Linked DNA regions of Homo sapiens. The protein of the gene in region 2 purifies or fractionates together with the protein of the main gene of each other region. This does not show direct contact. Each region holds a gene or a part of one and is shown on either strand. Other genes may lie near its edges. The genes, in order: SLC25A20, ARL15 and NDUFS6.

The links.
Region 1: the proteins of ARL15 (region 2) and SLC25A20 purify together in Homo sapiens (affinity purification with mass spectrometry; 2 studies listed by BioGRID and IntAct, with this or other methods). This does not show direct contact.
Region 3: the proteins of ARL15 (region 2) and NDUFS6 purify together in Homo sapiens (co-immunoprecipitation; one large-scale study listed by IntAct). This does not show direct contact.

Annotation. Positions count from the first base shown.
Region 1 is NC_000003.12:48,881,768-48,885,419, reverse strand, and holds part of SLC25A20 (mitochondrial carnitine/acylcarnitine carrier protein), read left to right. Parts: intron 1-1,295; coding exon 1,296-1,423; intron 1,424-3,652. UniProt on the Homo sapiens protein: Mediates the electroneutral exchange of acylcarnitines (O-acyl-(R)-carnitine or L-acylcarnitine) of different acyl chain lengths (ranging from O-acetyl-(R)-carnitine to long-chain O-acyl-(R)-carnitines) with free carnitine ((R)-carnitine or L-carnitine) across the mitochondrial inner membrane, via a ping-pong mechanism.
Region 2 is NC_000005.10:53,883,956-53,887,707, forward strand, and holds part of ARL15 (ADP-ribosylation factor-like protein 15), read right to left. Parts: intron 2,759-3,752; coding exon 2,606-2,758; 3' UTR 1-2,605.
Region 3 is NC_000005.10:1,807,854-1,811,505, forward strand, and holds part of NDUFS6 (NADH dehydrogenase [ubiquinone] iron-sulfur protein 6, mitochondrial precursor), read left to right. Parts: intron 1-3,652. UniProt on the Homo sapiens protein: Accessory subunit of the mitochondrial membrane respiratory chain NADH dehydrogenase (Complex I), that is believed not to be involved in catalysis. Complex I functions in the transfer of electrons from NADH to the respiratory chain.

The DNA.
Region 1 (3,652 bases), on a different chromosome or scaffold from region 2:
TCATCTCTCTTGGACTGGCCCCCTGGTCTCCCAGGTCCTGAATCTTCCTCGTTTACCACCTTGTTTGGCAGGGTATTTATGTATGTATTTGTCTGTCTGTCTAATTATTTATTGGTTACCACATAATTCACTTTCTTTTTTTTTTTCTAGAGATGGGGTCTCACTCTGTCACCCAGGGTAGAGTACAGTGGCAAGGTCATAGCTCACTGCAGCCTTGAACTCCTTGGCTCAAGTTATTCTCCCAACTCAGCCTCCTGACTGCCTAGGACTACAGGCACACACCACCACGTCTGGCTAACTTTTATTTTTTATTTGTTTTTGTAGAGACAGGGTCTTGCTATGCTGCCCAGGCTCATCTTCCCTTTCATTACTAAACTGTGCTAGTGAAAATTGCTGTGCAGTTCTAACAAAAGTCCCATCTTAATACCTGGAAAATATAAAACATTTTCTTAATCACTTGTAATCTTACCCCAAAGAAGGTAGATCACGTTGTGTATCCTGTTTTGTAGCTTTTTTTTTTTTTTTTACTTAATAATCTCTTCTCATGTTATAATGTGATTTCTTGGCCATGTGACTCCATTTATGGAGTTTATAATTTGTCTTCTATTTGGCAGCTTTTGTTTTTTTCCCCAAAATTTTGGTACCTTATAAGTGCCTGAGGTTATTCTTTTTACACCTCTGAGTATTTCCCTAGAATAAATTCCTTGCAATAAATTTTCCACACAAAATATTTCCAGGTGAAAGGGTATGCTACATATTGGCAGATTGCTGGCCGGGTGCAGTGGCTTATGCCTATAATCCCAGCACTTTAATAGGCCAAGGCAGGAGGATCACTTGAGCCCAGGAGTTCGAGACCAGCTTGGGCAACATGGCAAAACCCTGTCTCTACAAAAAATACAAAAATTAGGTGGGCATGGTGGCGCACGCCTGTAGTCCCAGCTACTTGGGAGGCTGAGATGGGAGGATCACTTGAGCCCAGGGGATCAAGGCTGTGATGAGTTGTGATCGCACCACTGCACCCCAGCCTGGGCGACAGAGTGAGACCCTGTCTGAAAAAAAAAGCCCCCAAAACAAAAACAGATTGCCTTTGAGAATGGAAACTGCCTTCAGTTTCTCCAGCATAATAGGAAAATTATTTCTGATAAATGTGGGAGATTTTCTTCCATTTAAAGTTCTCCTTGCTTCAAGAAGAGGTGAAGGAAGCCACAGTTTGGAGGACACACTGCTTTCCTCTTTCAGTGATTTAAAAGGTGGTGGTGTCTGTAAACAGCTTCTGCTTCTGTGATTCCTTGCAGGGCATCACGGGGCTATATCGGGGAATGGCTGCCCCTATCATCGGGGTCACTCCCATGTTTGCCGTGTGCTTCTTTGGGTTTGGTTTGGGGAAGAAACTACAACAGAAACACCCAGAAGATGTGCTCAGGTGAGTACTTACAGGTCAGGAGCACTTGCTGTTCTGCCTGGTAGCGTGACATGGGTTAAAATAAAGAAACTTGGGCAGGGCGCGGTGGCTCATACCTGTAATCCTAGCACTTTGGGAGACTGAGGCGGGTGGATCACCTGAGGTCAGGAGGTCGAGTCCAGCTTGGCCAACATGGCAAAACCCTGTCTCTACTAAAAATACAAAAAAATTAGCTGGGTGTTGTGGCAGGCGCCTGTAGTCCCAGCTACTTGGAAGGCCGAGGCAGGAGAATCGCTTGAACTTGGGAGGCAAGAGGTTGCAGTGAGCCGAGATGGCACCACTGCACTCCAACCTGAGCAACGGAGCAAGACTCCATCTCAAAAAAAAAAAAAAAAAAAAGGACCTTGGTGGGTCTTCCTGGGCCCCTAGGCCTGACTCCTGGGAGTTTTTTTTTTCTTTCTTTTTTGAGACAGAGTTTTGCTCTTTTTGCCCAGGCTGGAGTGCAATGGCACAATCTCGGCTCACTGCAACCTCCGCCTCCCAGGTACAAGCAATTCTCCTGTCTTAGCCTCCCAAGTAGCTCGGATTACAGGCATGCACCACCACACCTGGCTAATTTTTTTGTGTGTTTAGTAGAGAGGGGGTTTCACCACATTAGGCTGGTCACGATCTCCTGACCCCAGGTGATCCACCCGCCTCGGCCTCCCAAAGTGCTGGGATTTCAGGCGTGTGCCACTGTGCCTGGCCCAACTCCTGGGAGTTATACATGAAGGAGTACTTGAGTTTTTAATTTTTTTAATTTTAAATTTTTTTTTGTTTGTTCGAGACTGAGTCTTGCTCTGTCGCCCAGGCTGGAGTGCAGTGGCGCAATCTCGGCTCACTGTAAGCTCCACATCCCAGGTTCACACCATTCTCCTGCCTCAGCCTTCCAACTAGCTGGGACTATAGGCACCCGCCACCACGCCCGGCTAATTTTTTTTTTTTTTGTATTTTTAGTAGAGACGGGGTTTCGCCGTGTTAGCCAGGATGGTCTCGATCTCCTGACCTCGTGATCCGCCCCCTTTGGCCCCCCAAAGTGCTGGGATTACAGGCATAAGCCACTGTGCCCAGCCCAAGTACTTGAGTTTTTGAGATGGGGTCTTTCTTTGTCACCCAGGCTGGAATGCAGTGGTGCAATCACGACTCACTGTAACCTTGAACTCCTGGGCTCAAGTGATTCTTCTGCCTCAGCCCCCCAAGTAGCTGGGACTACAGGCACACACCATCACTCTGGGCTAATTTTTAAATTTTTTTTAGCAATGGTCGGTGTGTGTGTGTCGGGGCGGCGGGGGGTGCTCTCATTATCTTGCCCAGGCTGGTCTTGAACTCCTGGAGCCAAGCAATTCTCTTGCCTTGGCCTCCCACAGTGCTAGGATTACAGGTGTAAGCCACCACACCTGACCAGTTTTTCGTATTTCTTTTATAAGGTAGTATCAATTACTGGAGAGATTTGTAATACCAACCCCAGGAGGCTGTTGAGAGGTCTGAATGCTTAAATATATGTGACATGTCATAGGCAGCACCTGGTGCTGCCCTAAAGACAAGAACAGCCTTGCTTTCTATCACCTGATTGAGAGAAGAGAAGGTTCCAACTTTTGTTGTGCTTCATTTTTACAGCATGCTAATATGACTATAAAGATTTCAGGTATTAGTTTCTCTGTTAAAGTGGAATAAGTTAATGTGTTTTCCTTTAATAAACTTTAAGAAGTTGGATTTGGGTATGAAGAGTCACCTGAGACAGAATTATAGTTCAGAATTTACAAAGTAGTTAATGAAAACAGAGGCTTCTCAGGAGGCAGGGAAATTCTGAGTGGAAATATTGGGTGAAAAGGTATCCACAATCTGAGCTGTGCAGGATGCCAGCCCCTGGGAGGGGCTATAGGCAGTACAGGAGCCACAGAGGCTGGCCTGCCCTCAGATCCAGGAGCTCAAGGGAGGAAGCCCAGGGCGCCATGCGGTTGTATTCTGTCACCACTTCAGGCCACAGCAGGCTGAGTGAGGGTCTAGGATGTAGATGGAGGTGCTTGTAGAGTGAAACTCTATTTCTGGGATCCTTATGACTCTCTGAATGTCCCTAGATTCTATAAATAGCTGCAAGTGTCCTGAAATGTGGATGGGGTTGTTTTGGAGCTGCATTTGCCCATTGATAGTCCTTGTGTCCCACAGACACATGCCCTCTTTGAGCGCCTGGTCTTTTAGCATGTGTGCCAG
Region 2 (3,752 bases):
GTTTATTTTTCATTTGAAGATAGTGGAAATCGTAGAAATCATGGACAATACAAGTTGGTCTTGCCTGGTAAATGTCCACATGAATCTGTTAGCCTCTAAGTACAGGTACAGTATTTTTTTAATAGAAAGACAGGGCAATATGGCAGTTAATTAGCAACCAATACTGTCAACTACAGTGGATACAAAGTTTTATCATATAAATTAATTGCCATTACAAAAAGGCAACTGCTTTAGCTAAGAAGGTACAAAAACTGGAAACGTCCATAAATATTACAAGAAGCTAGGTGAAGAAATACATAACAGACTGTTTTTCCTATATAATATTTGAATATGCAAACCAAGACACCTGTGGCACTTTACATGAAAGTAGGAAAAGGGACTTACACTCCCACCCCCAGCCATCCCACCCACCCCACCACCCACCCACCCATCCCCACCCGTTCAGGCCCCACCCCGCCCCCACGTGGATTTCCAAAACATGGCAAATTCTAGGGTTACAAGGACAGGATGCCGCGCGGAAGCAGCAAGACAGCGAGCTCCGACCTGCTAGACAAAGAGGGAGCCTTATTGACAGTTGTAAAGCATTAGGCGTCAGACAGAAACTTGTCAAAAACAGCTGTTGTTGGGTACTGATTGATAATGTTTTCATTCTGACGGCTGAGACGCTGCAGACAGTCGTGGGTTTGAGGAGAGGCCCATCACTGGCGCACACATGAACACACACACGCAGACCACGGGAAGTCATTTAACAGATGGCTTAGGAGCACTCAGCCACGGTGTCTTAAAAAGACAACATTCTACATTTAATGAACTTGCAGGGAAAGCAAGGCCTAATAATCATTTATTTTTCATAGAAGATGAGCACAACAGGACAAAATAAAAACAGGAATTGTGTAACTGGTCATCGGAATAAAAGTTTTGTGCTGCTCAGGGATTACACAGTGTTAAAAATATTCAAGAATGCTGCAGACAAAATTGTATACGAATCACTATGTATCCTTCCTGATTCATGACATTAAAAAAAAAAAGCTTAAAGAAGTGTTTGATGTTTCAAAGGTAATGATTTCATTACAATCTACTCATAAGATTAAACCACAAAAACTACATTTAAATGGCATTAAGGGTCTGAAGTCTATCTTCTGGAGAATTACCAGGTATTACATCATTCTGTAATATAGTGTGAGTCTGTGGTATTTGGGTATCAGTCCATTTTACTTAAAATTACAAACATGTTTTTACACTCATGTGCAGGGAGCAGTTTTTTTTATCATTTGGCCACTTAGTATTTTAAGTGGTCAAAGTCTACAAAGTATGCCAAAGAATATTTCATCTGTGAACCTCAATATGCATAGATTTTTTTCCTGATTTAGAAAAGATCAAAGGTGCTAAACCTTAGTAAAACTGTACATTTATCCCTATGCAATTTTGTCATTTAAATTAAATGGAAAAAAAACTAGTTCCAAAGACTGAATATGAGTCCCAATATTATTTATTTGCTGCAGCCCCAGCACAATTTTAAGGGCACATTGAAACCCCTGAAAATAGAGGTTTATAATAGAAATACTGATAAACCTTTAACTACTAGAGGAAGGCATTAACAGATTCCAATAAACTACAGTAACACGTAATGAATGAATATATAGATGATTCTGTCTTTGTTATCTTTGTCAAATCCATGCCATCTTAAACCCTAACCAGTATAAATTATACTTTTTCTGGCTGTTTTTAAAATTTTTATCTATTATTTTAAAAATTATTTTCTCTATTTTAATCAAACACTTGAAGTTTTTAGAAAAAGATACCTATGTTACATTGCAGCTTCACTTTATGCAGGCTCATCATTCCATTAAACAATATTTGAAGACTCGAATCAATCAAATACAGTCTGTGATGCATGCATTGTACCTAAATTTCCTCTAACCACTCTCAGAAACTGAAACAATGTCTTTGCTCTTAAAAGAGAAGAGACTTCAGATGTAATCAAGAAAACATTGTGTAACTTGCCTCTAAGCTCTTCAGAGCCAATTTTACTATGGCAGGATATTCCTTCCTGATAAGGTGATTAATGAAGTTTTTGGTGCTCACTTTTCTCTCATAGTCTATAAGCTCAGTATACCAAAAAAAAAAAAAAATTAGATAAAATAAAACAAAACCCCCAATAGGTCTTGAAAATAATATAAATATTTTGTGGAGTCCCAGTCACATAATACTCCACTCCCAAACCCAGAGAAAATGATCAAGGTCTTGTGAGTCTTTCTGAGTCCTTCAAAAGGGATTTGATTTCCATAAGCCATGAATTCCATCCGTTTCAGCACAGAGTATAGAAGAGATGCTTAGAACAACAGAAGGAAGAGACATGCGGGGAAGATAATTAGTGGTAAACAGAGAATAAATTCTCTCTCAGTAGTGTGTACTTGACGTTAATGCCGATGATAATTCATCTGATCTACAGAATATTCACTTTAATAGAGAGATGAGAGTCTGAAATGACCAGAGGAAAATAGATACTGAAGCCAATATAGTCTTGATACCAAAATAAAATTAAAATGAGAAACTAACATGATAGGTTCAAGGCCTTTTGGGAGCCTGTTTTCTTTGCCAGATTTCACATTCTTACAGCTTCATGGTCTTTTTCTTCTAACAAATTAATCAGCTGAGAGAAGCTGTCTTTCAGTGCATCCATGTCATCCAGTGAGCAGGGCTGTAGAATCCAGCGTTTTCCACGTGCAAGTGGTTCAAGTTCAAAATATTTTTTGATCTTAAGAGGAAAAAATAAAGATAAATAGGTTATTAATTATATCAGAAACTTTCTCATATCAAAATTCTGAGGGATAAAGTAGGGGAATTTCGAGGCGGAATTTATACGAACTGTGATGCCTACAACTTTGCAATGTGGATGCCTGTCCGCAGCTGTTGTTATAATGTGGGTTATATATTGTGACCTGGGAGTGTTTTCTTTAGAGGTGAATGATCTGCGTGCAAGCCACCATTCCACCCATACATTTAGCAGCGTGGGAGGTCTGATGAAGTCAGAGAAAAAATTATTTGCACTATGGCACCAGTCAAGATACATTGCAGACACCAAAAGATTCGATTTCATCAAAATAATTAGCAGAGTAGCTTTCACTATCTCACCTTGCCAACTTATTAAATGGGTGACGACTTACAGTAGGTACTATATTGATTACTCAAGACTCAATTATTTTGACCATCAAGCACATAACACAACAAAAATCTAATTTAAATAATCTTCTTCTCTTTCTCTCTCAAATTTCTAGTATCTGCTTCTGAGACATGAGAGCGTGTTTTCTAGGAAAGAGGATAGAAACTGCATGTATGTATGTTTGTATGCATATACACACTTACATAAATTTACATATATGCGTAAAATCTTCTACCTTTTTTTTTCTTTTTCAGTCCTGAATTTTCTAGGATGGAAAAAGCAAGAACTTATAATAGGTATGTGCTGAAAAACCTGTTCAATTAATAACCAGTCACAAGTCACTCTTACTATATTGGCCAGCATACTGACTAACGGCATTTAGTATTACCAATTCCTGGCTGTGAATAAATAGCAAATTATTATGGCTTCTAGAAGTATTGATGATCTTCTCTCAAAAGGTATCATAAAACACAAAGTTCAGGAAGCTCCCGACTCATACACACTGTATCATACAAAAGTAGAACATTATATTTATTGCCCAACAAAGTTTTACATAACATCAAATACAGTTAGTAGCAACATCAAAAGA
Region 3 (3,652 bases), about 52 Mb from region 2:
CAGGGGTCAGTAGCTGCAGGAAGCAGCCACTATTCCTAGGACTTGGGGGGCAGGAGGAAGAGGTGGCGTCACCAGGAGGGAGCTGTGAAAGTGCCCTTGTGGTGCCGCTGGAGCTCCAGGTGGGAGACAGGACTGGGAGTCGGGGATGGGTGCTAGGGTGAGGCCCCCAGCCAGACAGTGGTGGCTGAGAAGGTCCTCCGTGAGAGGAAGATTGAATTGAGGGGCCTCGGAATTCCACCCTCCGCCTTTGCAGGTCATCTGGTTGGTGGCAGAGGTGGAGCTCTGTGCTTGCTTCCAGGTTCATCCTTAGAGGGTTTAAGAGGGGAGGTTTGCCTGAGTCTCTCTTGTCTTGAAGCAACCTGGGCGTCCTTTAGGGGGTGTTTGAGACGCGGGCGGTGCGATGTGCGCCATGGCTGCTCTCCAGAGCTTTTGTGTGGCTTCCCGCTTCTGCATGCTCCTCCTCCTGAGCTTCCCTCCCAAATACGCCATCTTTATAGTGGAGTGAAGGCAATCGGATTTTAAAAGAAATCTTCTGGATGGATAAGAACCGTGGGTCTTTGCTTCCTTTAGAAAGGCTTGGACTGTCAGAAATAATGGTTATAAAGTGAGGTTTATTTATCCCAGGACCCAGAGGAAAATAGTTGGAACTGTGAATTCACGAGCCCCAGGTTCACATGCTGGTGGCTTTGTTTGTGAGCTGGCGAGATGGGCTTTATTTCCTCCCTCATGCAGCTCCCCAGCTTCGTCTTTGCTTCTCTATTGTGTCTTTGTGTCTTGTGGTTCTTTCTCTTCCAAGGCACTGGCAAAATTAGTCACTGGATTCCAACATTCTCAAAGCAAGTTTGAACATGTTGTACAGACAGCTCAATTGTGGTTTTTAGAGCATTTTCTATAAAGTTACTTAGTTTAAAAATTAATTTGAATGAAAACTTCAGTTTTGCCTGTGATTTAAGAATTATATACTTATATAGACATGTATACACACGTTTAGCTTAAATAATTATTGGCATTCATGTTCAGAATGCCTGATGTTCTAAATAATTGAACTGAGCTTTTACTTTATTTTAAACTTTTATTTTAAATGTCCATGAATGGGGTCGGTATTCTACAGTGTCGATGATCCAGCTGGTGGACTTTTCCCTTCTGCGTTGGTTTTGATGCTGTGTCACAGAATCACATATTTTATGTTTTATCTTTAATAGATGTAATCTCAGTTTGACACAATAGGACTTTGACTCCTAAAGATTTAAACCTACATATCTTTATGCCCAATCATTTGATCATCAAGAGGTCAATGGAAAGAGTGTTTCCTATTTTTTACATTAGTGACGGGCGAGGGACTCATTTTACAGAGGTTGGACACTTCACTGTGTATGATGTGCCGTGTGCTTAACAAGAGATGGCGTGCGGGCTGCTGTGACGGTTCTCCCTTGATTCCCTCGTGAAGTGCAGCAGCGCTCTTCAGTTTTTCTCACCTTTCCCCAGGTGAAAGCAGGTGAGAATGGAGCCTTGAGTCTGAACCCAGAGCGGGGCTTTGTGTTGTGGCTGGGTGTGTTCACTGCCGGAGCTTGGCCGTGTGAACCCGGAGCCGGGCTCTGTGTCGTGGCTGGGTGTGTTCACTGCTGGTTCTTTGTATTCCTGCGGTTGCACTGAGCTCCTGGAGCCAGACGTTTGCTGGTGATGGGCGGTCAGGGTCACCCTTGAGCTGCGCACACTAAATGACGGGAGGGCATCCCGCGTCAGTCGCCAGTGTCGAGGCGTCAGCAGCCCTCCCTGCAGGGAGGTGGCCGGTCTCTTTGACTGCCGTGATCGGGGCCTGGCAGTTTGTTAGTGCGGCCTTTGTGACACGTTGTCACTTAGGCAGACACCATATTATTTACACCATAAGGCTTAATTTGTATGGTTAGTTGCATCGCCTGCAGCAGGGGTGAGCAGAACATCGCTCACTCCAGAGCCCTCTGTAAGGCGCTGCGACAAGGCGAGCCGCCGGGCCGGCAGCAGAGGCTTGTGTTGCTGGAGCGTGTGGAACAACCTGGGCGGCGCCACACGGCTCAGGCCTCTGCTTTAATGTGGCTTCATTTTCCACTAACTTCCTACTGTGTTTCTGGAAATAGATCTTCAAGGAAAAGCTTTACACAATGGTCATCTGTAACTGACAGAACCTCTTGAAAAATAAACCTTTCCGAAACATATCTGTGAGGGAGAGTGGTGCCCTGCCTCCCACTGCGTGTGTGTTCTCTGTGACTGTGTGGCATTGAATGGGCCTCTAGTCTCCAGAAATGAGTGACTTTGTGATGAGCCCTGTTGCTGCTTCCACTCTGGGGCGGGGACGCTGTAGAAGGAGCACAAAGTTTCAGGCTGTGCCATTAAGCAGGGGAACCCCAGGAGCAACATCCGAGGCAGAGGGTTGTGTCATGCTTGGCGGGGCTGGCCCTCCAGGAGGGGACATGCAGGTAGACCCACATCCCTGGGCTTAGAGGCCTGCTGGGGGTGTAGAGTTGAGTTCCTTCCCTCTACATGCACAGATGCCGGCGCTCTACTTCCCATAGCTTCCCGGTTCTTCGTGCCTTGTCTTCCTGGCACTTAATCGTTGACTGTTCCCAGGGGCAGCTGAAAGGGGCTGGCTCATTACAGAGTCAGAGGAAATCAAGGCATGTCCCCTTTCCAAGTTCCCAAATTTGCCATCGTGAGCATCATCAAATACATTATTTGCCAAGCCAGGATGTTTTAATTGCTTTTTAAAAAACATAAATTCTGTGAAACAGAGGGAATAGTCTAATGATTCCCTTTTCCCATGTATCCAGGCAGTCAGTTTCAACAATTACCAACCGAAGTAGTTGTCGGAGGGGCCAGTCTGGCTCAGCTCCTCTAATGGTTGTCGGAGTGGCCAGTCCGGCTCAGCTCTGCTAATCGTTGTCGGAGTGGCCAGTCTGGCTCAGCTCTGCTCTGCCTCTCCCCCGGCCCCCCAGCCCCTGGTAATGTTGATGTGAATCTTTGACATCATGTTACTGAGTCTAAATTTATCTGTATGTAAGTTGACCCTTGAACAACATAGGTGTGAACTGTGAGTCCACTTAAGTGGCTTCTCTTTCGCCTCTGCCACCCCTGAGACAGCAGGACCAACCCTCCCTTCCTCCTCCTCAGCCTGCTCTACGTGAAGATGATGAGGATGAAGACCTTTATGACGATCCACTTCCACTTAATGAAAAGTCAGTTCATTTTCTCTTCCTTGTGATTTCCTTCATTGCATTTTCTTCCTCTAGCTTACTTTATTATAAGAATCCAATATATAATACTTGTAACATGCAAAATATATGTTAATCGACCATTTATGTTATTGGCAAACATTCTGGTCAGCATCAGGCTATGAGTAAATTGTGGGGGAGTCAAAAATAATATGCAGATTTTCAATTGTGTTGGGGGTGGTTCCCCCAACCCCTGAGTTGTTCAAGGATTAACTGTACCTTCAAAAGATACTAACATTCAGATCTTACAGGGAAGTAAAAAAAAAACAAAATAACAAAATATATTAACATGACAACAATATAATTATCACACCTTAAAAATTATACTTTCTTTAAGTTAAATATCTAAGTGGTGTTAAATATTCTTGATCATGCATGTTTTTAAAAATGTTACAGTGTGACTCCGA